4 separate regions of the Homo sapiens genome follow, and all the other regions are reported to be linked to region 2. Evidence: microRNA targets listed by miRTarBase, many of them from high-throughput screens and not tested one by one. Region 2 holds a microRNA gene; each other region holds the end of a gene's coding sequence.
What was found. The annotated mature microRNA hsa-miR-155-5p reads UUAAUGCUAAUCGUGAUAGGGGUU and lies in region 2 at 2,684-2,707, opposite strand. An mRNA with a match to its seed (bases 2 to 7 or 8) in the 3' UTR can be bound and repressed. Matches are read on the target gene's strand: a 7mer-m8 pairs with bases 2 to 8, a 7mer-A1 pairs with bases 2 to 7 and ends in A, and an 8mer does both.

Region 1: the mRNA of EXOC7 is a reported target of hsa-miR-155-5p. The part of its 3' UTR that is shown has no 7-base or 8-base seed match.
Region 3: the mRNA of HDHD5 is a reported target of hsa-miR-155-5p. The part of its 3' UTR that is shown has no 7-base or 8-base seed match.
Region 4: miRTarBase lists HTRA1 as a target of hsa-miR-155-5p. The part of its 3' UTR that is shown has no 7-base or 8-base seed match.

What each region holds. Positions count from the first base shown.
Region 1 is chr17:76,080,940-76,088,245 of GRCh38, reverse strand. EXOC7 (exocyst complex component 7) reads left to right here. Exons shown (of 19, transcript NM_001013839.4): 11 at 124-186; 12 at 526-592; 13 at 2,101-2,166; 14 at 2,449-2,569; 15 at 2,837-2,932; 16 at 3,666-3,729; 17 at 3,957-3,998; 18 at 4,107-4,240; 19 at 4,496-7,230. The coding sequence ends at 4,598. ZACN (zinc activated ion channel) reads right to left here. Exons shown (of 9, transcript NM_180990.4): 6 at 6,844-6,968; 7 at 6,491-6,701; 8 at 6,197-6,364; 9 at 5,440-5,783. The coding sequence ends at 5,593. Among named protein-coding and RNA genes, the nearest start is that of ZACN, 5.4 kb to the right of the region's middle. RefSeq lists a silencer at 6,952-7,152 and an enhancer at 7,237-7,306.
Region 2 is chr21:25,569,384-25,576,689 of GRCh38, reverse strand. MIR155 (microRNA 155) reads right to left here and starts at 2,710; the gene lies at 2,646-2,710. MIR155HG (MIR155 host gene) reads right to left here. Exons shown (of 3, transcript NR_001458.3): 2 at 6,769-6,853; 3 at 1,522-2,797. RefSeq lists enhancers at 444-493, 886-1,035 and a silencer at 2,587-2,766.
Region 3 is chr22:17,135,487-17,142,482 of GRCh38, forward strand. HDHD5 (haloacid dehalogenase like hydrolase domain containing 5) reads right to left here. Exons shown (of 8, transcript NM_033070.3): 6 at 5,573-5,747; 7 at 3,064-3,252; 8 at 2,034-2,871. The coding sequence ends at 2,535. Among named protein-coding and RNA genes, the nearest start is that of LINC01664, 17 kb to the left of the region's middle. RefSeq lists enhancers at 2,152-2,859, 2,860-3,566.
Region 4 is chr10:122,512,378-122,519,683 of GRCh38, reverse strand. HTRA1 (HtrA serine peptidase 1) reads right to left here. Exons shown (of 9, transcript NM_002775.5): 9 at 4,777-5,493. The coding sequence ends at 5,325. Among named protein-coding and RNA genes, the nearest start is that of DMBT1, 45 kb to the left of the region's middle.

The DNA of each region.
Region 1 (7,306 bases), not on the chromosome of region 2:
AGCCTTTGTGCCTGAGAGGTGTCCTAGCACCCGTCTGCCAGGAGGCGGCACCATGAGCAGGTGCACTGGGGCATGGGGTGGGCTGGGGGCTGCTTCAGGGAACCAGAGGCTGTTTTTCCACAGAATGACCCGGACAAGGAGTACAACATGCCGAAGGACGGCACCGTACACGAGCTCACCAGCAATGTGGGTGCTGCCTGAGGACACCAGGGAGAGGGGAGGAAGGAGGGCCCAGGCCCAGGCCCAGGGCCAGGCAGAGTACTGGTGGAAGGGACTCAGCCTGGCCCAGAGCCGCTCGCACCTTTGTGAGCAGTCCTGGGTGGCAGGATGGACAGTGACATGTTTAGTGTCTCTAGCAGACAGGGCCTTTCCTGGCAGGCTAGAGTGAAAATGAAGTTTCCAGCCGCGCTCTTCACTGGGCGGATCCCAGCCCTGGGCTGGCCCTGGGCACTCAGAGGGGTCGCTGTGGGAGGCCGTCGGCCGGGCCTGCCACTTGCCCTTCTGCACCGTTTTCTTCCCACCCAGGCCATCCTCTTCCTGCAGCAGCTTTTGGACTTCCAGGAGACGGCAGGCGCCATGCTGGCCTCCCAAGGTACTGGTACCTCCCAGTTGGGCCCCCTGCCCCACTCGCCTCCTTGCCTGGAGACATGGGGTTAGAGGGCAGGTAGCAGTGAGGAGGTATCTCCAGTCTGTGGAGGGGTTGAGGTGTGCTCAGCAGAGGGTCCCTGGGGCTGAGCATCAGGAGAGCAAGGTTTGCCTGCACCTTTCAAGACCAGACACTGGACCTCTGGCCCCTCCCTCAGCCCCTTTGACCGTCCTCGCCCTGGAAGCAGTGTCCTCACTCTGGGAGCGGTGCTGGTTGGTTGGAAGGTGTCCTTTCTGCCCCTGCCCCCCTCCCAAATCCTTCTCTCGTGTCTGCCTGCTCTCCTAATCAGGCTCGCTCAGCTGGCCTTCAGAGGGTAGCAAGTGTCTCAGGGCCCGCTGGGCGTCTTCCTGCTGGCCCTGCCCTGGGACTGGAGCTCAGGGGGTTGGCCTGTAAGCAAGAGCACCTTTCTGGGTCATTCCAAGCACTGAGGTCCCTGGGCCCTCTCCTCCCGTCCCATTTTGGGGGCAAGGAGCCTGTGGGCAGCCTCCAGCCTGCAGTTCTCAGCTCTCTACTTTCCAGGGTGTTCCCTGGTCCTCAGAGGGTCCCGCCTGCTGTGTCTTGCTATCTGTGTTTTGGCTGTCGTGGGGAGAGGTCTGCTTAATTCGGGTTGACATGCCGTTTCTAACCTGTTTTTTGCACTTTGCATCTTTCTCCCTCCTTTGTCTCTCCCTCTGTCCCCTCTGTGTGCACTGCCTTTCACTCCGTAGTTCTTGGGGACACATACAATATTCCTTTAGACCCCCGAGGTAAGCAGTGCGGTTCTGCAGCCCCCTCCTGTCCCTCTGAAGCTTGGTGGGTGAGGTTCCCTGGGGACTGACTCTCAGTACCTACTGGGGAGCCTGAGTCAGAGGGGACATGAGTTTTCTCGGGGTGCTCTCAACTCTCTCTGCTCCCTTCAAGGCCACTCTGTCTCTGAGCTTATCCGCAGCACCTGCCCAGGCTAGAGCCCTGGATACACCCCCTAGGCTCGCCCGGCCTCCCTGCCTTGCTGTCCCCACTCGGCCTTCCCCACTGTGCAGGCCGCAGCTTCGTCTGTTCAGTAGGGTCTGGTAGAGGGGATGTTCGAATGTAGGGGAGAAGGTGGAGAGGCTGTGGGGAGCCCATTCTAAGACTCTGCTGTTGACAAAAGGAAAAAGGGGGCCTTGTAGAAACCACCCAGGGTGGGTGGGGGCAGGAGGGGACAGGGCGCTGGCATCTCACTCTTTTCCTGCCAGCTTTTCTGCTGACATGGGCCAGCTCCATCCCATCATAGAGGGCAGCTCTGGGTTCCAAAAACTCCAGGGCTGGTGCTTCCTGCGGCAGGGGCCACCCTGTGGCTTAGCAGGCAGCCAGCTCTGCCCAAGGAAGCCCAGGGCCTGTCTCAGTGTCCCCTCAGACTGCTGCATGGCCTGGGGGAAGGGCCGTTGAGGGTCTTGGCTGCTGCCACTGCAATAACAGGACTTCTCCTCTCACAGAGACCAGCTCTTCGGCCACCAGCTACAGCTCTGAGTTCAGCAAGCGGCTGCTAAGCACCTATATCTGTGAGTGTTCTCCCGGGCAGACCAGCAGCCCTGCTGCCTGCATGCCCTGCCTTTCCCTTCCTTCTGTCTGTGCTCTCTGGCTATTCCCAGGGCCCTCTCCTAAGTGCCATCTGATCTTTGGAACCACAACCTGACCTCTAGTTCAGAGGCTGAGGGGAGTTGGGCTAAGGCCTCCTGAGGCAGGACGAGGAGCGATGGATAGGAGCGCGTTCGCGGGTCCTGGGGTGGGGTCGTTTGGGTCAGACTGCCATGGTGGGTGTGGCCCCATTTTTCCCTGTGCAGGTAAAGTGCTGGGCAACCTGCAGTTGAACTTGCTGAGCAAGTCCAAGGTGTACGAGGACCCAGCTCTGAGCGCCATCTTCCTGCACAACAACTACAATTACATCCTCAAGTCCCTGGAGAAGTAAGTGGCCTGCGGGAGTGAGTCTGCGGCTCTCACCTTCCCCTCGGCTGTGCAGCTGTGCCAGCCCCTGCCCCCCTGGGCTCCTTCTCTTGTGGACGAGAGGGGAGGGGGTGCTTCAGTCTCCTCCACCCCAGGACCCGGAAGGTGGGATGCCATAGAGCTTGTGGAGTTTGGGGTGCAATGGGAGGCCCTCCCGGCATTGCCGCAGCCTTTGGGCCTGAGGAGCCAATCCTGTCCTCCTCTCCTCTGTCCCCTACCCCGACCCAGGTCTGAACTGATCCAGCTGGTGGCAGTGACACAGAAGACTGCTGAGCGCTCCTACCGGGAGCACATTGAGCAGCAGATCCAGACCTACCAGCGCAGGTGAGAGGCTGGGCCCGCCCTGCTCCTGCATGGGCCCCTGTGCCACCACGCACTCTTCCTTCTCAGCACCTCAGGACACAGAGTCGGTCACGGGGAACTCCTGTCCTCTGGACCCTAATCCTCCACTTGGTTTCTAATCAAACTCACGGGGTGGAGAGAGAAGCCCCCTCCTCTACCACTACCTGCTCCTAGGGGCCCACTATGGCCACTTTAGAGGGGAGTCTGCCAAGTGTCAAGGCTAAGAATGATTGAAGAGCTGGCTCTCAGAGACGTGGGTAATGTTTACCTAGGAGAAGAGCAAGGTCGCGAGAGCACTTGAACGTGGCTGAGCCTTGCTCTGTGAGGATCCCGCTGCTTCTCTGGTCCTCTTTCTTCCTGGCTTTGTTTCTTCCCTTTGAATGTGTCTACCTCTTCCTTCTCATTTATCTGCCCTCCACTCCTTTCTTTCTCATCTGTTTCTCCATCTTAGTTTGCCACGATATTGATGTGAAGTATAGTTGACAGTATTTGTCCAATTTATTGAACACTCAAGTGTTTCCTAATGTTATCTCAAAAAGTGACCAGTTTAAAGATTTTCTCTTCCCAGGAAGAAAACCTGTTGTTTGCTTAGTTGTGACCCACATCCCTTCCTACCACCACCCACCAAGTAGATCCAGAGATTTAGCAAACGAAACAAGCCAGGCCACTGAGGCAGGCCACCCTCTGCCCTCATGCTTCTCTTTCTGTCTGGCAGCTGGTTAAAGGTGACTGATTACATCGCAGAGAAGAATCTACCTGTGTTCCAGCCGGGAGTCAAGGTGGGCTCAAGACCTGGGCTGGGAAGGGGTGTCTGGCAGACGGGATACTTTTTGTCGTGTCTCTGGGAAAAAGTGGACAAGCATCCCTCTGGGATCAGAGAGCAAAGGATGCATGTGGCCATCAGGACACAGGAGACAGGCCCAGACCAAGGGTGTTTGGGGAAGAGTGGGGGAAGGCTGCTCTGCTCTGAAGTGAGCTTTCTCTGCTATCTCTCCTGGCTTCCCAGCTCCGGGACAAGGAGCGGCAGATTATCAAGGAGCGTTTTAAGGTGAGTCGGGGTCCTCTCCCCTCCACTGCTTGCTGCTGCTGTTGAGGCAACACAGACCCAAAATGTTTGTCTCTGGGTGCCTTCCTTTTTCACCTTTTTGGTGGCCAGGGCTTCAATGATGGCCTCGAAGAACTGTGCAAAATCCAGAAGGCCTGGGCTATTCCAGACACAGAGCAGAGGGACAGGATTCGCCAGGCCCAGAAGACCATTGTCAAGGAGACCTACGGGGCCTTTCTACAGAAGTGAGGCCTCCATTCCCCTCCCAGCCTGTGCTGCCCACAGCCCCAGTGGGCCTCTTCAAGCTCCTCTTCCTCAAGGGAAAAAGGAGAAGGGTGGTGGATTTAGGCAGCAGATCCAGCGACCTGGGCTTTGGGGCGGGGCCAGACAGGGAATCGCTCAGGGCCACCCCTTCCAAGACTATCAGGAGTGCCTTAGGCTGAGGGTGGAGCTGGGGAGGGGTCGGCCCTCCCTGTCCCCTGACCACAGTGCCTCCTCAGGTTTGGCAGCGTGCCCTTCACCAAGAACCCGGAGAAGTACATCAAGTACGGGGTGGAGCAGGTGGGCGACATGATCGATCGCCTTTTCGACACCTCTGCCTGAGCCTGCTGCTAGCCCTGCCTGGTTCCACCAGACTGGCGTGTCATTGGACAGATAAACCAGTGTTAGCTTGCCTCTGGGCTGGGTGAGCTTGAAGTCCTCTGGGACAGAGACCTGTCTCCACGCCTCCGGGAGCTGTGTCCCTGAGCCCCCTAGTCCTGGCTCCTGCTTTTTCCCCACAGCCCGTGTTCCCAGCCGAACCAGCACTCTCCCGGAAGCCTGGGGTCCCTCCACACCTTGGCTTTTATGACCCTGATGGCTTCTGAAACAGGAAAAGAGAGAAGGAAGACAGAGGCCTGTGCCCACTGCTGCTCCATGTGTACCAAGAGCAGCAGGGCAGAAGGGCCCTCCCTCCAGCCTAGGTCAGAGGTGGGGACAGAGAACTCCCCTACAGCCCAGAGATGTGGCAGGGCTCAGAGAAGCAGCCAGAGCTCCTGGAGGAAAGGCAGTCGGGACTGACCCCCTCTCTTAAAACACATTCCCGCCCGCCCACAGGCCTGAGGTCTGGGACCTTTCCCTCCCAGGAGTCCCCTAGGTGGCTGGGGGAGGCAGGCTCACTGGCCATTTTCCCTAGAGTCCAGCACACTGCAGGAGGCGTTCGGAGGAGGAGTTCCGCCCCACCCTCTACAGCCTTCCTCAGGCCCCTGTCTCTGGCCCCCAGCCTCAGTGCCTCTTGGCCCAGGGCCAGGCAGTCGTGGTTGCAGAAGGAGCAATTAGGCTGCCTGCCTGTGGGCTGGGAGACAGGGACAATGGGGAAAAGTTAAGGAGCAAAATGGGGGTTGGAAGCAAAAAATAGGGCCCCACCTATTTAGGACGAGATTGAAGACTGACCCTTGAGGCACACTTGCACTGGAGATGGGTTTATTTCACGCTCTGTGCTTGTGTGCTAGCGGAGGGAGAGCTCAGGGTGGCTTAATCCAGAGGCCCTGTCATGGCCCGCCCCCAGCCATGGGAAAGCAAACTTCATCCTAAGGTGTGCAGCCCAGGCCCTGCCCCTTTACAGTCTAGGCCGCCTGCCATGGGGTGCAGCCTCTCCAGGGGCTGCGTCAGACTTGCACGCTGCCCACATCCAGATTCCTGCAAAGACGAATTGGGTGCACAGCACCCCAACCACATACACGAGGAAGAAGATGCGGTCAGCAGTCTCAGGCCAGCTTCTCTGTGACCCCTTTACTCCTCTGGAGGGCTCTGTGGGGAGAGATACAGGGAAAGGAGCTGTTCTTCAAGGTCCCCTCAACATGAGCGGAAGAGCGAACCCCAGGGGTCATCAGCCTGTATCGCTTCCTTTCTTAGATTCTCAGCTGATGAAAATTTGGGTCTGGCCCATTTCAGGCCATCTTCAGTTGAAGAAACACCCTCTTAGGCTGTGCAAGGCATGGGTTATCAGGGGATTGAGGTCACCTGGGACTTCAGGGAGGCTCAGCTTGCTCCCTGCCCCAGACCTGTTTCTTCTAAGGGAGGAGGACATGGTGGAGACCAGGGACAGGAGAGCCAGCAGGGTGGATGCAAGGGGCCTCTACCCACACCTGGACCTCCGTGCCCTCACCCCAGCCCTAGGTGTGCACCTAGGCCTCATTCCTTACCCCCCAGCCCCTGCCCACCTTCAGCAGGATGAGGCCCTGGGTTGCCGTGCTCTCGCTGTTCCCCTCTCGGGGCTGGGCTGGGGCCGCTCTTGGCCCCAAGGTTGCCCCGGGCCAGCAGCCCAGCCAGCAGCACAGTCTCTATGGTGCTGAGGAAGAGCAGCAGCAGCAGGATGGTGAAGTAGTAAACTGGGGGAGGCAGGGCACAGGGAGATGCTCAGGGGCCAGTCCCTGTGTCTCTGGTGCCCAGCGAGCTGAGCACCAGTGGGTGACCGGGGAGAAACAGGGCAGACTGGGTAAGGGAGCAGGGCTTACTGAGCAGTGGGTTGCAGGAGGAGGAGCTGGGCAGGGCCTGCACCAGGGAGGAGTGGAGGACGAGGTAACTCAGCAGCAATGTCACCTTGTAGCCTATGCGCTCAATGGCCCGGAGGGGCAGCAACCCCCCGCACACGTCAGCCAACAGCAGTGCCTCTGCAGGCACCAAGAGAGCGATGATGGACTTGAGCGCCGTGTTCTTCAGCCTCAGCTGGAAGGGGAAAAGTCAGGGCCTTCCCGGCGGGGGGGAAGGAGGTGGGCATCGGGGGCATGGGGCCTGGCCTCTGGCCGTGCATCCTCACTCCCACCCGCCTCCAGCAGCCCTCTGTCGGCCTCCTCCCGACTTGACTCACCGTCACCTGGAAGCAGGGCACCAGCTGCTGGGGTGGGACTTGGGTCTTCAGATCATAAACTACGTATTCCCTCTTGACACTCACAATCTCGTTCACCACGTGGGCCTGGAACTCTAACTCCATCGCTGAGGGGTGGGAATGAGAACTATGAACCAGGAAGGAGAGATCCCAGCTGCCAAGTCTGGGGGTAGCAGACTGGAGCCCAGGGGTGATGGAGACTTTTGATGGCTTTTGGCAGGGACAGACTTGGACACAAAACCGATCCATAGAAGGGCTTCCCAAACCTTGTTTTGCAACATCCCAAATTGTCTCCAGTTGAAGGAAGGCCTTTATCAGATTCATAGATGAGCTTTCATTGTAAAAATAAATGTACTTTGCACCACTTCATGATGGAGGGAGAAGTGGTCACAGGCTCGTCAGTCTATCATCTCACAGCTGAAGCAGGATCCCCAGGGCTACCGCT
Region 2 (7,306 bases):
TTTTTTAGCTACTGGGTCCATCTAACTGATGACAGTGAATACGAAAGGCTTGGTCTTGAATTCCGTAAATTTCTGGGGAAGTGGGTCAGATCCTAGATAAATCTCTTAACATTTTGCAATTTTTTAAAACCATCCTTAGTTTGTAACTTAAACACAAACGCGCGCGCACACACACACACACACACACACACACACACACACACATATACATATATATACCTTGTTACTTACCCCTTCCTCCAATCCAAACACAGACTCAGTCTTGCTCATGCTCCAAGAATTTTTGTAATGACTGGTCAGGAGGAATCCCTCTAAGATGAGGAGATAGGCAGTCAGAAGCCTAGGTGGGCTGGGCGTGAGAGAAAACCCAGGAACCCTGGTTCTTTGGGTCGTCACCACGGGATTGATTATAGTTAGTTTGGAGCTAGAGTGTCTTTGGGGAGATCTGCTATGGTAGATCATTTGATTTAAATGACTGAAATGTAAAAGTTTGAAAGTTTGTGTTTAACACTTAATGCATAATAGACATTGTGCTTTTCACATGCATGATTTCATTTAAGCCTACATCTTATGAAATATGAAATATATTCATCATTTTATTGATGAAGAAATTGAGGCTTAGAGGAAGATTAAGTAACTTTCCAAAGCTTCATGTGAGTGTACCCAAATGCTCTTCAAATAAGGCATTTCCCAGCACAGCTTTTCTTTAAGTGCCTTTGTAATGTTTATAGCTTTTTATTGTAACAGCAGGAAGGTTATACTACAATAGTTTATTCCAGTCCTAATGTTCTATGACTTTGTGTCTTTAGGCAGCAAGCAGGATTTTGAAGAACTGGGACTCAAAGCAAGGAGTCCTCTTGTAGATATACAGTGGCAGATAAAATGAATTGAACAGACACTTTTTTTTTTTTTTGAGATGGAGTCTCACTCTGTCACCCAGGCTGGAGGGCAGTGGCACGATCTTCGTTCACTGTGAACTCCACCTCCTGGGTTCAAGTGATTCTTCTGCCCCAGCCTCCTGAGTATCTGGGATTACAGGCACGCACCACCATGCCTAGCTAATTTTTGTATTTTTAGTAGAGACGAGGTTTCACTATGTTGGCCAGGGTAGTGTAGAACTCCTGACCTCAAGTGAACCACCCGCCTTGGCCTCCCAAAGTGTTGGAATTATAGGCGTGAGCCACTGTGCCTGGCCTGAAGAAACACTCTTGAATGTGTTCTACCTACATGGGAGCTCCGTGGAGCCACAAGCTCATTCCAGGTGTTAGGAGAAGAAATTTGTGTTGGCAGCACATACAACTTGAACAGAAAGTGAGGAGAAGAAATTTGTCTTGGCAGCACATACAACTTGAACAGAAAGTGGGGCAAAGCCAAATGGGTATTCTTACATGAGAATACTGTGTCCTAGGAGTCAGGAATGTTCCCTTTAGTGTCCTCATAATTTTCTTCCATTGTCTTTTTTTGGCAGATAGCTTCTGGAATTATAATTTGTACTTTGCAAAAGAAAATGGGCCATAAAAATTATTTTAAATCAACTAAAGACTCATGAGATTTATTTGGTTACAGTGAATAACCTGGACAAAATGTTGAGAAGAGTTGTTAAAACAAGTTTACATTAAATATACTAACAATTACGTTTGGTTACATATTTGTAAGTGATGGTTATTTAGAAAAACTGCATAGAAATCCAAACCTTAAATATTCTGCAAATCAAATCATTAGCTTTTCTCTTCTCTAATAAAGTAGGGTGACTAGTTCTTGGATTAATCTAACTATAACATTAATGTAGCACTTGATTATCTTATGGAATAATTCTCTATCTCATCTAAGCCTCACAACAACCTTGTAAAGTATTATCCCCATATGGAGGAAGAAACAGGCTTAGAAGTGGAAAGGTAGATTCTCTGCTCGCACAACCGTATTATGTGGCTAAGCTATTGAACTTGAACCTAGATTTGGGACTTCATTTCAAATATGAAATTTTTTGATTAAATCTTTTTATCTTGTATGGAAAAAATATCTCATTAGCTGTCAGATGTTATTTACCCTGCTAACTGTTAAAAATATTTCATTAAAAAAATTCAGCTTCATAGCCTTTCAGTTTCCCTTTAAGAGTCAAATAAAAGTATTAATTTTAAACTGAAGTTGCCTGAACAGAAAATCGTTACCTGGGGGAAAGTACCAGTTTCTAAATCTTTTAAAAAACGTTGCCAGACAATCCATGATATAACTGGAGGTTAGTAGTCCTTCTAATTTTTAACTACAAAAATATTATAGAAATTTGTGTTTAGCCCACATTTCTAACAGTTGAATCAAAGGTGTTTATGAACATTATAATGAACAAGCCAAAACCTGCAATTAAGAATGACATGAATATATTTTCTGTTAATGATAAAAACAAACATGGGCTTGACATTTAAATGAAAATGTTTGCATTTAGGATACTACTGATAAATCTTTTAAATAACCTTACTTTCAAAACTTAGTTTAAGGTTGAACATCCCAGTGACCAGATTATGATTAACAGATTGAAAAATGATAAAGCCTGAAGTCTAAGTTTATCCAGCAGGGTGACTCATGCTTCTTTGTCATCCTCCCACGGCAGCAATTTGTTCCATGTGAATGCTAGTAACAGGCATCATACACTGTTAATGCTAATATGTAGGAGTCAGTTGGAGGCAAAAACCCCTATCACGATTAGCATTAACAGCATACAGCCTACAGCAAGCCTTCAGCACTCAGAGGATGAGGCATAAAGAATTTAAACCACAGATTTCCCCTTCCTGGTTTGTGCCACCTGCAAGAGAGAAAGAAATGTTTGTGTATGCACATGCGGTTATAAAGCTGGAGTGACAGCATATAGTAAATCTGAAAGGAAAATAGTCCATTTTCTGTTGAAAGGAAGGAGCTCATTAAATCCTTGGAAGTAATTTTTTGAAAGTGGTAGAGAAATTGGCAATTAAAAGATGACATTGTTACCTTTAGGCATATTTGAAGACTTTGAAAATTATGTTTTAAATTCTATTCTCTAGTTTTGAATCGGGTACACATATGTATCATCTTCTTTAAATAAAAAACAAAAACCGCTCTTCGGAGTTTTCAAATGCCAAAATGCAAAGAGGAAAGCTTGCATTCTGACACAGTACAGTTTTTTTTTTTTCTGATTTGTACTTCATCTAGGAGCTAGACAATTAAAGGCCCAAATGTTCAAAATAGTCCTTTATGATTTATGAAAATTAAAACCCAATTAACCTGTTTTATAAGGGTAGGGTTCAGGCTGAATTTTTCTTTCTGTAATACATAGTTGAAGTTTTACCTTTATTCTTTCAGGAAATGTGATACAAGCAATGGAGGTTTGCCTACAAACGAATCTATCTGAAAATGTCCCCGTCTACTATTTAGAGATTCCTTTGGGGAAAGCACTACCCAGTGGCTTTGGTTTTGACTACATAAAGGAAGTATGACTTAAAGAGTCCTCTGTGTTTCAAACTACTTGTCTTAGGCAGAGGGTTGATTAAAAAAAAGAACAAGATGAATTTGCTACTTCCTTTTAGAGTCTGATTTTACTCTCTCAGATAAAGTGACATTTCTCCCACAGGTTTCTGATTTCAGTGTTACTATAACAGAACCTAGAAGTTAGAGTATCATTCAAGTATGTGGTCTCCTGCAGTACAAGAGGGGAATCACCTTTTCTTTTATTTAATAATGAAACCAGCTAGATATAAAAATGTGACTAAGTTCAAAAGAAACGTATGAAGTAAAAAATTCCCCAGTGAATATATTTTGACAGGGCAGAATATCGTGGTTTGGAAATTTCCAAACCAAGGAAATATATTATTCTTACTGATAGTATTTTTTTTTAAACTTTACTGTTTTCTGAGATGAATTAGTTGATGATGAAAAAATTTGGGTTAAATGATGTCACTTCAGGAATTCAATTCATTTTACAGAATTTCAGTCAATAAAGATTGTAAAAACAAGGACTTTTTTTCCCCCTTACAGGGTCCTGGACACAGTAAATGCTCAATAAATACATATTAATAATGTAGTGTTAGTGCCACCCCAGCCAATATAACTCGCCCTTTTCTTAAAAGATGTGTTTAATTTGTATTGAAGGTAAATTGCTGGCATACTATTCTACCCATAAATTTTATTCCTGTTCTTTAAAGATAACATATGAGCACAGGTATTAAAATAAATATATTTAGTATACTAATTAGCTTTTTCCCTCTTTTTAAATATACATACGAATTGCCTGATTAGAGCACTCAGAAAAGTGACAGTGTTTTTGATAATGTGTTATATATATTAAAAATTCTAATAGCTTTTTTTATTTGTTCAAACTCTAAATGTATATTGAAATAAAACATGTCACACAGGTCCCCTTTTGTTCTCAAACACAACCTTGTCATACAGGCATGATGAATTCCGAACACTGCAGAGAAATGAGAAGTTTGTCTAAATATACTATAGAACCTTAGGTCATATTTAAAACACAATGATAGATGAAAAACATTAATGAACAGAAGAAAGGAGAAATATCCCAGAAAAAAAAAAAAATATATATATATATATATATATTCTACAATTTAAAAATAGTAGACTTTTAAGGACATTAGAATGACTAGAAGGTCATTCATTCATCAGTGTGGAGTCTATGTCCACTTCCAGTGTTTTTGACTGGGCTAAGCAACCAACAACAGAATTGCTATATGCCTGAGTGGGAATTAGTGGTCATAGACAACAAAGGCCAGTCTATTAGCCAAGGCACTGGGCAGAGGGTGCTTTCATGAGGTAATAAGAAATAAAGTAGTTCTTTCTGGAATCGGTGTGGCCACCAGCTGGTAAAGTGGCAGGGGAAGAATTATACACAATTATAGGCCTGACAATCAGTAGTGACAGTGCTAACCAAGTAAGAATGTGACAAGCATAATGTTTAATGTATAGCAATGCAAGAGTAATTTATATGAATTATATATTAGAAATTAGACTGGGGTCTTTGACTAGGTAGTTCTGCAGATATACTTCCAGTCCCCTCACTCCACAATACTTCTTAGGCCTACCACATGAAATATCCATTGTCAGTATAAGTTTTACTGTGTAGCATAGGTTCCAAGTTAAATGTTCTTAACAAATTACTACACACTGTCTGAGTATCAAAATCATTCCTTCTCACAGTAGGTAAAAATCTACCAAGAGGAAGCACTATGTATACTAGATTAATGATAACACCAAGGATCTTTCATTATATGACAGGCAATTCTTCCTCTGGTGCTAAGAATGAAGCTGAAGGTGGCACTTTGGGAAATTTTTCCTTAAATTATGCTTTCCTGAAGGACAATTTTTTTGGGGGGGGTGGAGTGTGAGCATAAGATTTAAGAATATCTGGCTGGGTGTGGTGTCTCATGCCTGTAATCCTAGCATTTTGGGAGGCCGAGGTGGGCGGATCATGAGGTCAGGAGTTTGAGACCAGCGTGACCAACATGGTAAAACCCCGTCTCTACTAAAAATACAAAAAAATTAGCTAGGCGTGGTGGCGCACGCCTATAATCCCAGCTACTCAGGAGGCTGAGGCAGGAGGATCACTTGAACCTGGGAGGCAGAAGGTAGTAGTGAGCCGAGATTGTGCCACTGCACTCCAGCCTGGGCAACAGAGCAAGACTCTGTCTCCAAAGAAAAAAAAAGATTTCAGAATATCCTTTTATTCTTACCTTGTTGATTTGCCAGGAAAGACGTTATCAAAACTATATATTCAGAGCATAATATGTCCTAAGTTTGTCATTAAAGTTCTGGTTTTCCTTCAAAAATTTTTTATTGTGGTGAAATATGTAATGTAAACATAATGTAAGTTTAACATCTTCACCATTTTTAAGTGTACAGGTCCGCTATATTAAACACTTAGTCATAATGTTCTACAACTATCATTATCATCCATCTCCATAACTCTTTATCTTGTAAGGATCTCATTTTATGTCTAAATCATAGGTTATATTCTTCTACAATTATATATATTTCTATATTGCTGCTTATTCTCAGCACCAACCATTTAATATTTGCATACCAAAGGAACTGCACACCATAAAGTTTTCTTTAAAAAAAGTTACAGTGGTCGAATTTCATAACCAAAGCGATTGTGGGATAGCTCTAATTTTATTTACCTTGAAATATACAAATAATTTAAAACTATTAATTTGTTGTTACAAATCAACTGTACATCTATTTTTACTGAAAGTCATCTTATATTGATGTAGCAATACAAATTCTAGGTCCAAAGCCATTTTAGTAGGTGAAATGGAATGTAATTATGTTGTTGAAAATTAAAGTGATTTAGTTTAGGTAACTTTCTCTGCATATTTTCCCACTTTAACATTTATGTGTACCAATCAAAAACATAATCATTAAGATGGAATAATGTTGATTCCTATTTGGATCAGTTTGCTAAAAGCAATTAGCATATACTTGTATATGTGGAAACAGTATCTGCCTTTTCTATCAGAATTTATTCTGATTCTCTATATTCTGCCGCTGCAGTTTTGGTTTACATCATGGAAGTAAGCAGTGATTAATGCAAGTGTATAAAAATCAGGATTCTGTGAAACTTTGGACTTGTCATAATCTTTAGAATAACAACGATTTCTTGGTTACCTTTTGAGGTAGAATCAAAAGTTGAAAGCGGCTGCCAACTTGGTGCCCCAATGACCTGCCTTTATAAAAACTGCATCTGTCAGCGTGTTTCCCTTCCCTTTTACTTAAGATAGAATTCCTTACCATTAGAGCCATCTCCATTGGGTGGGAGAGCCAAGGTGACAGGTAAGGTCTCTGGTAGGTTGTTCTTGAAATGCAGACAAGTTATCTGGGGAAAAAGGGTTGGGGTTGAAGTTGACACATCACCTTAGATGTGTTTATTAGGTTAGTTAGTCATCTTTGAAAGCAGAGGTGAAGGGCTGAGGAGAGAGGACCCGGGATAGGTGGATTTTAATGGGAATAAAGAGTAATTTAGAGGAAAGATAAGGATGTACCCCAAATAGTTTGATAGCTCAATAGTTTTTTATTTATAATTTAAGCTCACACTTTTCATGTCCAGCATAAAGCAGCAACAAATTAAGTATTTAGACTATCATCTGAGTTTTAGTTCTCTGAGTTTCAACCTCTCTACATGCTGTAAAATGTCATATAAAGTGTTTAATTTCTCAGAAATTCTTCAGGAAGACTTGCAATGTTCTCTGACAAAAAGAAAATCCAAATGACTGCCTTTCTAAAGTGTATTCATTTGTGTAAAGTTTATCACATATTTTCTGTAGAATAT
Region 3 (6,996 bases), not on the chromosome of region 2:
CAGGACGCCAGGCCCTCGGCCTAGACAAGGAGAGGAAGGAGCTGCTGCAGCCACCTAAGCTGGGGAAGACAGTTAAGCAGGAGGTGTGGACTGCGCTCAGTGTCTGGTCGTGGACACAGCAACACTTACACCGAGGGAATGAGCACAGCTCCTCAGCACTCAGCCACTCAGCCTCCAAGACACCGGCTCTCCTGTTTCATAGCCACTCTCTCAACCTCCTTTGCTCCCTAACCTCTAAACACCTCTGAGGCATCCAAGCAAAGGTGTCAAGAAATCAGCTGAGGGCCGGGCGCGGTAGCTCATGCCTGTAATCCCAGCACTTCAGGAGGTCAGGCAGGCGGATCACCTGAGGCCAGGAGTTTGAGACCAGCCTGGCTAACAGTGAAACCCCATTTCTACTAAAAATACAACAAATTAGCTGGGTGTGGTGGCACGTGCCTGTAATGCCAGCTACTCAGGAGGCTGAGGCAGGAGAATCGCTTGAACCCGGGAGGTGGAGGTTGCAGTGAGCCGAGATCACGCCATTGCACTCCAGCTTGGTAAACAAGAGCAAAACTCCCGTCTCAAAAAAAAAAAAAGAAAGAAAGAAATCAGTTAGGCCGGGAGCAGTGGCTCACGCCTGTAATCCCAGCGCTTTGAGGGGCCAAGGAGGGTGGATCACTTGAGGTCAGGAGTTTGAGACCAGCCTGGCCAACATGGCGAAACCCCGTCTCTACCAAAAATACAAAAATTAGCTAGTCAGGCGTGGTGGCGGGCGCCTGTAATCCCAGCTACTCGGGAGGCTGAGGCACAAAAATTGCTTGAACCTGGAGGTGGAGGCTGCAGTGAGCCGAGATCATGCCACTGCACTCCAGCTTGGTAAACAAGAGCAAAACTCCCGTCTCAAAAAAAAAAAAAAAAGAAATCAGTTAGGCCGGGAGCAGTGGCTCACGCCTGTAATCCCAGCGCTTTGAGGGGCCAAGGAGGGTGGATCACTTGAGGTCAGGAGTTTGAGACCAGCCTGGCCAACGTGGCGAAACCCCGTCTCTACCAAAAATACAAAAATTAGCTAGCCAGGCGTGGTGGCGGGCGCCTGTAATCCCAGCTACTCGGGAGGCTGAGGCACAAAAATTGCTTGAACCTGGAGGTGGAGGCTGCAGTGAGCCGAGATCATGCCACTGCACTCCAGCCTGGGTGACAGAGTGAGACTCCATCTCAAAAAAAAAAAAAAAAAAAAAAAAAGAGTAGTCAGGTGGAGAGAGCCAAGAGGGCTTTAAGAATGAGGGAAGGAGGCCGGGCGTGGAGGCTCACACCTGTAATGCCAGCACTTTGGGACACCAAGGCAGGCAGATCATTTGAGGCCAAGAGTTTTAGACAAGCCCGGCCAACATGGTGAAACCCTGTCTCTACCAAAAAAAAAAAAAACATTAGCCAGGCGTGGTGGCATGTGCCTCTAGTGCCAGGTACTCAGGAGGCTGAGGTGGAATTGCTTGAACCCGGGAGGTTCAAGTGAGCCATGATCGTGCCACTGCACTCCAACCTGGGTGACAGAGCAAGACTCCGTCTCTAAAAAATAAAAAAAGAACAAGGGAGGGAGGCATCAGCTATGTCAAACACAAACAGCTACTGGAGTAAAATGAGGACGAGAACTGACTGGGGGATTTGCAGATGCTGAGGCCATGGGTGACACAGACAAATGAAGAAATGAAGTTGGTTACTCCTAGAGGAAGGGATGCAAGAAGCGGCATGTTTTCTAGAATCACTGCAGGAAGAGCTGCTTCCTTTAGAACAAACCAGTAACAAGATCCCTCTTCTTTTCCACACCAGGGAAGTTGCTAAGTATATGCCAAAGCCAGGCATACTCATTCATAGACAGCCTCAGGCTTCACAGCCCAGAATGGGTGTGGACTTGGGGGCGGGAGGTAGGAAAGGAGATGTGGGCACCTCGTGGAGCTGAAATGCCACCCATCTCCCAGACCCTGGGCCGCCCACACCACTCACTCCTCCTTTCCCCACAGGACTTTTAGTGCACTCCAGACAGAGCTTCACAAGAGTCAGCATCATGAACATTTATTATGATTATTTTATTTAAAAAAAAAGCCCCACATCTCCGGGCAATAAACTACAATACAGTAAAAAGTAGCATCTGGTGTTAAGACACTCTGCCGACAGGCTGCATGCCTTCAGTGCCGGCAAAGGCTCTGCACAGACATCCACAGTATTCCACACTGCCTCCCCCATTTCAGAAGTCCCTACTGAAATGAGAAGGACACTGAGGCACACAGGGGAAGAGAATGGCCTGAGGTTAGACTGCCACGAAAGGCACGTGGGAACTGGGCCCAGAAAATTCCAACCGTTCCATACAAAATGCTACCCAGCAGGGAAAAAGAGTCACTGTCTTCTTCCAAGTGACCAGTAATGCCACACTCATGGGGCAGCAAGAAGGGTGGCAAGGGAACCAAGCCCTGACCTGAGCCCAGTGATCAGGCCAGAGCCCAGCCAATGGGACTCGCCCACAGGTCCAGGCTCACCCCCTCACCTCCACCGCACTGCCCTCACTCCAAAGCCCAGCCCTCCTTGCGGAAGACCAGCTGCACAGCCTCATTCACGTCATTCACCACGTGGGAGGCCTCCATGAGCCCTGGACTGAAGCATAAGTCTCGGTGCCCGTGGAATGGAGGCTCCCCTCCTCCAAGGACAGGCTCCGTGGACTGTGGGTTCCTGGGATTGTAGACGCCTGTACACACCAGGATGGAGATGCAGCTCTGGCTTGCTGAGGGCTGTTGCTGCCGTGTGCCCCCGGCCCCTAGTTCTGGCGCCCCATCATGCGTTGCCTTCTGCAGGTACTGGTGGAACAGGTTGGCGCCGTATACGTCAGACATAGGGTTATCACTGGCAGGGGCAGCCACACCGGAAAAGGAAAAAGGAGAAAAAACCCTAAATCAATGTTGCAAAGCAAAGGGAGCAGAGAAGAGTTTCGGGGCAGAAGAGTGAATTAGATATAGGGAAATGGGGGTGAGAGTAGAGGAGGAGGGAGAGAAGGGGATGTCATAAAAGGGACAAAGGAGGGAGAGCAGAGCCTACCCCACAGCATAGAGCTTCCGGATGGGGGCGGCCCAGCCCCGCCTCTCCGCCTGTCGCCTGATCAGGTCCTCGGCATACTGGTAAGTGAGGATGCTGGGTTTGCCCATCAGGCCCTCGTATCTCAGCTCCTTGCCCGTCACTTTCTGGTAAATGGTTTCCAGGCACAGCAGAAAGGTGCCATGTCCAAACCTGCCAGAAACGAGCACGCAGCAGTTCAGTCTTCCTGATCTCCAGGCTCTTCTAGAGAACACGACTGCCACTGTCTAAGCAGCAAACACACAGACCAGCCTTTTCCCCAGGGTAAGAGCTGACATGTAGCAGACACTGTGCAGGCACTGGAGGCAGCATTTCACATTTCCCTCTCAGAAAAACTCTATGAGATGACGCTATTTGTAAAACGAGGAAACCAAGGCACAGCAAGATTAAGTAACTTGTTCAAGAGGGCAGAGCTAGGATTACAACTCAGTCTGACTCCAGAGCTTAAATCCTGCTGTAGAGCTGAGGCAGACTACGGTTGCGCTTCTCCCCTTCTTTGCTGGTGTCCATTTTCAGCTGACCATATTGCCACTAGGTGTGAAAAAGACCTTCGCTTGCCTCCCTGCCAGCGAGGCGTGGCCATGTGACTAAGCTACAGTCAAGGAAAGCAGAAATGCTGGGCTAAATTTTCAATAAGCATCCTTAAAATTGGGGACAGGCGGCCAGGCGCAGTGGCTCATGCCTGTAATCTTAGCACTTTGGGAGGCCAAGGCAGGTGGATCACCTGAGGTCAGGAGTTCAAGACCAGTCTGGCCAACATGGTGAAAGCCTGTCTCTACCAAAAATGCAAAAATTAGCTGGGTGTGGTGGCACATGCCTGTAGTCCCAGCTACTTGGGGGGCTGAGGCAGGAGAATCACTTGAACCCGGGAGGCGGAGGTTGCAGCGGGCCAAGATTGCACCACTGCATTCCAGCCTGGGCAAAAGAGCAAGACTCCATCTAAAAAAAAAAAACAAACAAACTGGGGACGGTATTCTTCTCTGCCCTCTCTGCCCTCCCCAACTCCTTCTTGACACCTGGAATGCTGATATGATGGCTGGCGCTTGGGTACAATCTCAGCTCACTGCAACCTCCACCCCCTGGGTTCAAGTGATTCTCCTGCCTCAGCCTCCGAGTAGCTGGGATTACAGGCACCTGCCACCATGCCCGGCTAATTTTTATATTTTTAGTAGAGACGGGGTTTTGCCATGTTGGCCAGGCTGATCTTGAACTGACCTCAGGTGATCCACCCACCTCGGCCTCCCGAAGTGTTGGGATTACAAGCATGAGCCACCACATCTTTCAGTGTCATTTATGTAAATAATTCTACTTTTAATTAGAAAAGTTCATCTAAAATCTGGTTTGTAAATTGAAATCTGCCCCTTGCTTTTCAGTTCACAGAGACATAACCAACCAAGCCCACTGATCTAGTGTCAGCATACCCGCCTCTAGGAATAATACTTCAGAGACAATGCCAAGCCTCGAGCCACAGACATACACTTTAAAAGTGACAAGAGCATACCATACCCCGTCTCTCTGGGACTACTGAGACGGGCCCTGAGGCAGTACTGGGCCGTGCCCACCCTCTGCTGACGAGCACTGTCGACTGGGGGTCAACAGCAGGCTGAGACTCAAGAGACTGGCCATGCAGATAACAGCAACCGAACAGTACACAGCAGCTGTCAGCTGGCCTTCAAGTAAGCACCCTGAGGCCAAAAAAGGGCTGCCTCTATCTGTGCTAGCCCCAGAATAAGACAGGACACATGACACCAACACAGCTGAGCAGGGAGTATAGGCACCTGCATGCCCCTGAGAAAGCCACTTATCTGCTGGGTCTCAGTTCTCTGGTCTATACGACTATCAGAACAATCCTTGGCCGGCATGATGGAGCACGCCTGTAATCCCGGCACTTTTGGAGGCTGAGGCACGGGGGTCACTTGAGGCCAGGAGTTCAAGGCTGCAGTGAGCTATGACTGCACCACTGCACTCCAGCCTGGATGAGAGAGTGAGACACTGTCCCCGCAAAAAAAACAAAACAAACAAAAAACGACAAATCCTTGCTTCCTCCTGCCTTATGTCTGAAGGGTAAAAGGAAACCAGAAAGTCAAAGAACCAATGCTACAGGATGGAGCCAAGGAAGGAAGAGCAACTGAATAATGTGCACAGATACGGTACAAAAAGTGCCCACGGTTTGGGATCCACCAGACACCAAGAGCATGTTCTGTAAAGATTACAGGGGGCAGGGGTCACGTGTGAAACATCCTCTCAATACATCCTCAGACTCCATAATCTGTAGTTTAGGTTTAGTAACTAATATGTGGAGTGGTCCTTGAAAGCCCTTCCAAAGGCCAGGTTACTGCAGCAACAACAGGGCCTACCTAAGTGAGGTCCCGGCACCTGGGGTGTCAGGACGGATGGGAACTGCCTGCAGGACTGCCCAGGCAGCAGCCAGGAATAGACCACCAGGCCAAGGCTGGGAGCTTTGTGTCCTCACCTGGGCATCTTGGCTTCAGCCATCCACAGGAGATCCATGTTGCTGGCTAGGACGGGGAGGTGGGGGTAGGGGGGTGTTGCCAGGCCAGCCCCAGGGCTCCCATTGCTGAGGAGGACATCCATGATCAGCTGCAGGCTGGTCTCCCAGCGGACCGGCTCCCCTAGGAGGAGCACCCCTTTAAAGAACAGAGGCGCAGGTGAGGGCTGCAGGGCAGATGGCAGGCGGCAGGCCCTCAGGATGCCAGCTAGGGCTACCCATCCACAAGCCCTCCACCCATGGTGCACCCAGCTGGGCAGGGGCACAGCTCCCCAACAAGCCCAGTAGAGCCCCTTACCCATCCACCCTGGGTGCACAAGGCCCAGGGCCCAGGAAGGAGATTCCTGAGGGCTCCCATTCTGACTTCAGTCCACCAGTGCTTCACAGAAGAGGTTACAAAACAAAAGCAGCATGTCTCAGGGCTACTTCTCCTTGCTGGCTGGGACTCTGCCACCACATTCTCCCTCACATGACTTAGCAAGGGCTCCTGTTCCCTCAGTCGCTTCTCTCTGAGCCCCAGGGACTGGCAGAACCTAACAGCCAGGACAGGGGGTGTGGAGTGATAGAGACTTGAAACCCAACCTGGACTCCACCGATTCTCCTGTATGACTGTGGCCAAGTAACTTCTCTTCTCTAAGCCTCAGTTTCCTCAACTGCAACTACATAACAGCAACAGCACTTAGCTATTGTGAGGATAAAAATGAGCTACATCATCGGTAAACAGCCCAGGACTAGACACACAGTAAGCACTAGGCAAAGAACACTGCTGACACTAAGGTACAGGGCCGGTGAACTGCACCAGACCAGTGATTCTCCATGGGGCAGCACCGCCCCTGCTGAGGTGCTTTACAAATCAGAGGCAATTTTAGTTGTCACAATGACTAGAACCTAGCAAGTGAAGGTTGTGGGAGGGGGCCAGGGACGCTACATACTCAGGACAATCCTGTGCAATCAAAAACTATCCCACACTAAAATTAATTTTTAAAAAAACCATCCCATGGCTGCGTGCGGTGGCTTGTGTCTGTAATTCCAGCACTTTGGGAGGCCAAGGTGGTAGGATTGCTTGAGCTCAGGAGTTTGAGACCAGCCTGGGCAACATAGTGAGAGCCCGTCTCTACAAAACAACAAGAAGAAAAAGAAAAAACTTTCCCATGTCCTCATAACATTTGAATGTCCCACCTGATATCCTGGTATCCACACAGGTGAACAACCTTTTCAGAATTACTTGAACGATTCTATTTTACATACAATCACAAAGCATTTTTGTACAGCTTCAATAAACATCAATTTTTCCAAAAATACAACTATCGTGTAAGTCAAGAGAAGACTGTACTTTGCCTTTTCAAAACTCTACCAAGAACTGTTACCTATTTTGGAAAATCACTTGA
Region 4 (7,306 bases), not on the chromosome of region 2:
GCACTACTCTGAGAGTGAGGCCCCTTTGCTTTAGCCCCTGGGCACCCCACTGGCCTCCTTCTGTTCTGGGCCCCACTCTGTCCCTCCCCAGCCTCACCCCCTCCTCACACCCCCACTCCCAATATGCCCAGCACAGTCCTGGGTGCACTGTGGTTATGCAAAAAGATGGATTCCATGAAAGAATGCGTGCTAAGAGGATTCTTTCCTCCAGTGGCAGATGTGACTGTCCAGGGAGGTGTGGGCCCACCTCAGTTGTCAGCTAATCCGTATTGATTGACACCTGCTTTGCAGGCTGGGCTCAGCCCTATGGCCTCAATGATGGACTTGGCCCTGTGGAGCTGCAGCCCCAGAGTGAGTCCCGACAAGGGAACAGGCAGTTAGGACAGCACATGGCCAGCGTGCGAGCTCCTGGCAGGGGAGTCCGGTGGGGCAGATGGTGAAGAGATGGGGAGGAGCTTCCATGCACGGGGCAGGGAGGGTACTAGGATTTAGGTGTGGAGACAGGAGAAAGAACAGCCTGTTCAAGGAATGGAAGTGAATTCCACATGACAGAACATTGAGAGCAGGAGAGGAATGGAGAGGTGAGAGTGGAAGGAAAGTGGGGACCAAGTCAGGAAGGGGCTCAGATGTCCCAGAAAGGTGTTTAGTCTTGTTCCAGGGAGGCTGGGGATGAGGCAAGCCGGAGTTGTGTGCTCCTGACCTGTCCCAGACATGGGAGCACTTGTCTCCTCTGGTCAGATACACCAGGCCAGGGACTTGGGGCCCCCACTCTCCCCACTCTCCTCCCTACTTCCCCACAAAGACATGTCCTACCCCCGCCAGAGACAAGCTGAGTGGCCTTGGGCAAGTTACTTAATCTCTCTGAGCCTTCATTCCTTCGTCTATAAAATGGTATAATAATAGTTTCTATTCCTTGGTGTTACTGAGGGGACTAAGTGAGATAGATATGTGTGTAAAATGCTTGTACTGTGCTTGCCACAGAAAGCCTTAGCGACAGCGCCTGCTGCCACCTTCCACACCCTGCACGCCACATCCACACTCATTCTACGGTAGCATTTACTATGTGACACTGCCATTTCTATTGTTAACATCACTCCTCTCCCCTGGATGACATGACGCCCCCTCTCACCGGTTTCCCTTTACCACGGCAAGGAAGCCTCCAGTGCCCACCTGTTGGGCTCCAGAATGCTAATCAATGCACGCACCTGTCCCAGCTGGTCCAGGGCAGCAGTGAGCAGGGCTCCAAGGCTAGAACGCTCACAAAGGTCACCAAAAACACGTGTCTCTAAATGGGAATGGCTCTCCAAGAGAGATCTGATTGTCCTCTTGCCTCAAGGATAGAAAAGAGTCCCATCTCCTGAGGAAGTTACCCTGGAGGTGGGCGCAGTGCAGCAAAAAGCAGCCCCCAGGGCAGCCCGCCTATTCCCACGAGCCTGCTCCAGACTCCTCAGCCTCGGCTACTCCCCGGACTCAACCAGGGAGCTGACGCCGGACACACACCCAGAGCAGGGACCTCATCAGAAGGTCAGGGAACTGAGAGGGAGACCCAGACAGCAGGTCTCCATTTTTTTTTTTTTTTTGACAGGGTCTTTCTCTGTCACCCAGGCTAGAGTGCAATGGTGAGATCGCAGCTCATAGCAGCCTTGACTTCCCAGGCTCAAGTGATCCTCCCACCTAAGCCTCCCAAGTAGCTGGGACCACAGGCACACACCACCACACCTGGCTAATTTTTGTATTTTTTGTAGAGGCAGGGTTTCACCATGATGCCCAGGCTGGTCTTGAACTCCTTGATCCACCTGCCTCAGCCTCTCAAAGTGCTGGGATTACAGGCATGAGCCACCACGCCCGGCCACAGGTCTCTTTTAAGCTCCTTCACACTGAGCCTCACAATCTGCCTCAGCCCAGTGCTCTAGATGGTTCCCACCAATGGATCAGCGTTGGCAGGATGGATGGCAGAAACCTACCTGCCCTCCCGGCACTGAGCCACTCTGACTCTGTCATACCTCTGACCTTACCTATAACCACCTTCAGGGGTGCAAACTTGAACTGGACTGGCCCATTCACCCAGATATATGTCCACACAACCTCAGCGAGGCCTGGCGCTGACTTCAGTGGTATTTGCTGAAATGGGCCAAGCATCCTTGCCAGCCCATGGAAATGCTATCATCCAAGGTTCAGACCTGTCTAAAATATTAACCAGGTGGAGACAATCACTGTGCAGGTTCTGATAACAACATGTGCTGCTCCTCACCACGCCCACCAGACAGGAGCATTCTTCCAAATTTTCAGATGGAGAAATGGAGTCAGAAAAGACAAGACCCCCCAGGCATGGTGGCTCCTGCCTTTGGGAGGCCGAGGTGGGCAGATCGCTTGAGCTCTGGAGTTTGAGACCAGCATGGGCAACACGACGAGACCCTACCTCTACCAAAATTACAAAAATCAGCAGGGCATGACAGTGCATGCTGTAGTCCTAGCTACCCTGGAGGCTGAGGTGGGAGGATCACGTGAGTCCGGGAGGTCGTGACTGCAGTGAGCCATGATCAAACCACTGCACTCTAGCCTGAGCAACAGAACGAGACCCTGTCAAAAAAAAAAAAAAAAAAAGACAGAGGACCTCCCTGTAGAGAGCTGCCCATCTCAGATTCACTCAGCCAAGCCTGAAAGACACAGCAAGGAGACCCCTGCACACCAGGGCCTCTCTGCTGGCCAGTGCATCAAGAGAAGCATCTGGCAGGGCGGGATGGGGATAGTCACGTGATGCAGATGTGCTGGGGAAGCCCAGCCATGTGGTTGGCTCACAGTTTTGCAGAAGCTGGAAGCAGAGGACTAGAGCTGAGGGTGCTGGGATTGGAAGAGGCACTGCTGAGCCCACATTTGGTAAGCAGGAAGTTCTCCAGGAGCCAGAACAGGGGGCAGGTGCGGGCCCACCAGCCAGAGGGCTGTTAAAGTGACCTTGGAGGGACCAGAAGTGGCCAAGAAGAATTAGAAACTGAGCTCCATGGAAGCAGAGATGGACCCAACTGAGGGCATTCTACAGATGAAAAACAGACAGAGAGGTTAAGGGACTTGCTCAAGGTCACACAGCCAGTAAGATATATAGACACTGGATTTAAACCCAAATCCATCTATAACTCCAAAAGCCATGCTCTTTCGACTCAGTGCTCTGCCTCCAGGCTTTAAGACTAATTTATGTTGCAAAACCCTGCATCACAGCCTAAAGCAAGCAGAAGAAACAACTATTCTGGAGGTCTTCAAATGTGAGGTGGGGGTTCCAGGACAAGCAGCCCCCATGGGACACAGGGTCTCATGGGTAAGTGCAACCATGTAACCAAACATGTCATATGCAACAATGTGGCAAGCTGCCATTTCTGTCCTGTATGTGACCATATATGCAGGCAAAACTCCAACCCCATCCAGTGTCCTGCAGAGATGTTGCAGAGTGTTTACAGAGGCCTCAGGCTGGTCCATCACCAGGCTAGTTTCTTCCAGAAGAACCATCAGTGATCTCCCGGATGCCTAACAGGCTGAAGACAGACAGGCTCGGGCCGGGGCTGGGTCTGACCTCAATGCCACCCACGGCATCCTCCCCACCTGTGGCAGCACCTCAGCTCCGGGGACCACACAGGAAAGCAGGCCCACATACAAAACATCTGAGAATGAACCCCTGAAGCCACAAGCCATTCTGAGTCATCACCTTTAATGGAGAAGGGAGGGAATGCAAAACACACTCCCACAGCCAAAGGACTCGCTGGTTCCTTCCTGACTCTACTAGGTCATTCAACCAGAGAGCGAAGAGACGTGCCAGTGTTGCAACGGGCCACAAGCTGCTCAGCCGCCGAGCACCAACACTGATGAGGGCTGTGCTCAACTGGACCGCCCCTGCATTTAAGTTGGCCCTTCGGCCTTCCGCAGCCTCCCCAGTTATGAGTTGGACCTTATGCCTCTGTGGATGGAGGAAGGATTCAGCTCTCAATTGGGAGAACAGAACCTCCATCCGGTCCAAGGCCCTCCTTTTAACTGCTGACAGTTGGAAAGCTTTGACCCGCTGCTCTTGGCATAAACAGCATACTCTCTGGTGTGTGCTCCCCACAGGGACATAGGTCTGTGCAAACTTCCAAGCTAAAGCTGTGCAAGTCCTCTTGGGTCAGCTTCCCAAACTTTCGGAAAGCTTTCATGGAGATAAAGGTGCCTACAGCTGCTTCTAGCTGTACCTGTTTGAGGGCACTTCAAGGGGAGTCCTCCTCTAAACTCACCAAGGCTTAAGGCCTAGTTCTTATTTCACAACCCAGGACAAATGAGGTCAGCTGCAGCCGTGTGCATTCTGGGCCCATTCTGGGGTTGCATCCTGGTCTCCTGAGCTGTCTCCCTTTCAGAAAGAGACTTGGCTTCTGAACTGAAGCTCTACAGAGGGAGAGCCTGCGTCTTTCCTGCTCTCACTGACCACGCACTTACAATGCCTGGCACAGAGCAGAGACCCAGAAAATCTTTGTTGACTAATTGCATGCTGTATGAGGTCAACAGACTCTCTTTCATTTGACAAGCTCCGGATGCGAGTGCAACTGTCCTCAAGTCCTGCTTCATAAAGCCAGGGTGTCCAAGCAGAGTTGTTCATAACCCTGGTAAATCCCATGGGATGATTTTGAAATAACTCATAAGACTAAGAGCTCAAACCTGCGTGGACAATGCAGTCTAATGAGGGGCCCACTGACATTAGAATCATTCCAAAAAGACTGCAACAAGCTGCTCTTGGGAAAGGAAAATAAGCACTACAGAAAGCAATGTGTAAGAAGTACTTTAATAGCTCAAACTCAGAGTCATCGTGCTCCCAATTCCAAAGAGATTCCTAAAAGAGGCAACTTCGGCCGTTTGAGAAGCCAGCGCTCACCCACCCGGGGTCTCTGTGCATTGACCTTTGGGTGCTGACTTGGAGAAAAGCACAAACACGACCAGTCCCATCCTGGCTCCCGTGGGGCTTCTTCTATCTACGCATTGTATCGACTGCATTAGTTGGACTAAGATGATGACTCAGTTAAAGGAGGAGACAAATGCTGACTGTCTAAGCAAGAATGGCCCAAGCTGGCAAGAAAAAGCACACTGCATACATAGGATACAGAAGGGCAGAGCTTCTGCCTGCGGATCTGCAACATTACATTTGTTTTGCCTGCAAACTATCAAGAAGGATTCTGTTGGCCAGGGAGTCTCCACTGAACAAACAAAATGGCAGTCAAAAGTCTTGAGTGTCCTATTCCAGCAGCCCAGAGTCCTCATCCGTCATCCACGGGAGAGTCTTTGAGGGAAACATGAAGTCCAGCTCATGCCTCTGCCTATGGGTCAATTTCTTCGGGAATCACTGTGATCATGATATCTTCATTACCCCTGCGGACCACCATGTTCAGGGTGCTTTCCCTTTTAATGACGTCGCTGACATCATTGGCGGAGACCACGGACTGTCCATTGATGCTGATTATGACGTCGTTTTCCTTGAGACCACCACTGCAACACAAAGGGAAACACAATGGCAATGTTTCGTGTTTCCATTCCTCCTGGTCTGACTTTACATGGACAGAGGCACAGCTTAGAACCTAAAAGCCCAGAGCAAACAGGATTGGACGGTGGCGAACTTAGAATAATTCAAACCATCAGTGGGTCAGGCACGGTGGCTCATGCCTGTAATCCCAGCACTTTGGGAGGCTGAGGCAGGTGGATCACCTGAGGTCAGGAGTTCAAGACCAGCCTGGCCAACATGGTGAAGCCCCGTCTCTACTAAAATTACAAAAAAAAAAAAAAAAAGAGCCAGGTTTGGTGGTGGGCACCTGTAATCCCAGCTACTCAGAGGCTGAGGCAAGAGATTCACTTGAACCCAGGAGGTGGAGGTTGCAGTGAGCCAAGATTGTGCCACTGCACTCCAGCCTGGGTGACAGAGTGGGATTCCATCTCAAAAAAAATAAAATAAAATAAAAAATAAACCATCGGTAGATTGGATTACTTTTTAAGGTTTTTTTTTTTAATAATGTTCTTTTTTCCCCACTCTTTTTTTTTTTTTTTTTTTTTTTTTGAGATGGGGTCTCAATTGTTGCCCAAGCTAGTCTCGAACTCCTGGGCTCAAGGGATCCTTCTGCTTCAGCCTCCTGAGTAGCTGGGATTACATGCATGTGCCAGGATGCTGGGCTCCTTTTGAGATTTTTAGGCTAAATCATCCATTGTGTCCACTGTAGAAATGCCTACTAACACTTGTGTGGCTTTATGACCCCAAGGAGATCAAAGGTCAAGATTGACCCCAAAGTGGGGAAGGATGTACCAGGTACTATCTGCCACGTAGTTGGCCAGATATCTGCCAGATAGTTGGCCACTATCTGGCCAACTTGCTTATAATGGGTATTGCAACTCAGAATGCAGTTCCTATAGGGGTGGGCGGAATGTTTCTGTTAAGAGGCACTTCCTTTGTGTGGTTGCCACTATAACTGTAGCTCTTATATAGCTCAGCGTCAAAACGCTGTCATGGTCCTTCATGGGCTAGCACAAGGGTCTGCAAACTTTTTCTGTAAAGGGCTCCATAGGAAATATTTTAGGCTTTGCAGTACATATGGTCTCTGTTGAAGCTACTCAACTCTGCTGTTCCAGCACAAAAGCCACCATAGATGTCATAAACCAAATTACAGTGGACACTGAAATTTGAATTTCATACAAATTTAACATGTCACAAAATACTATTCTTATTTCAGGATTTTTTCAACCATTTAAATGTTCTCATAAGTGGGAACTAAGCTACGAGGACACAAAGGCATAAGAATGATACAATGGACTCTGGGGACTCAAGGGGAAAGGCTGGGACAGGGATGAGGGATAAAAGACTACAAATTGGGTTCAGTGTACACTGCTTGGGTGATGGGTGCACCAAAACCTCACAAATCACCACCAAAGAACTTACTCATGTAACCAAATACCACCTGTTCCCCCAAAAACCTATGAAAATAAAAAATAAGTAAAAATAAAAATAAAATGCAAAAACTATTCTTAGCCCACAGCTCCATATAAAAGCAGGCAGTGGGCCAGATCCAGCCCCCAAGGCACATTTGCTGGTCCCTGGTCTCGCACTTTTCTCTGGATATTCCGCCAATACAGGTAACAAACCCTGATGGATGGTTGAGCTACTTCTTGTCATGTTACTTTGATATCACTTGGGTTATTTTTCTGGAGGTGTTGACAGGTATGGGCCTAATTGTCAGAGACATTCTGGAAGACTCCAGGAAGAGAAGGGTCCTGAAGCCTAGAAAAGGACCACCAAGTGAGGGCTTGGGGACACTGT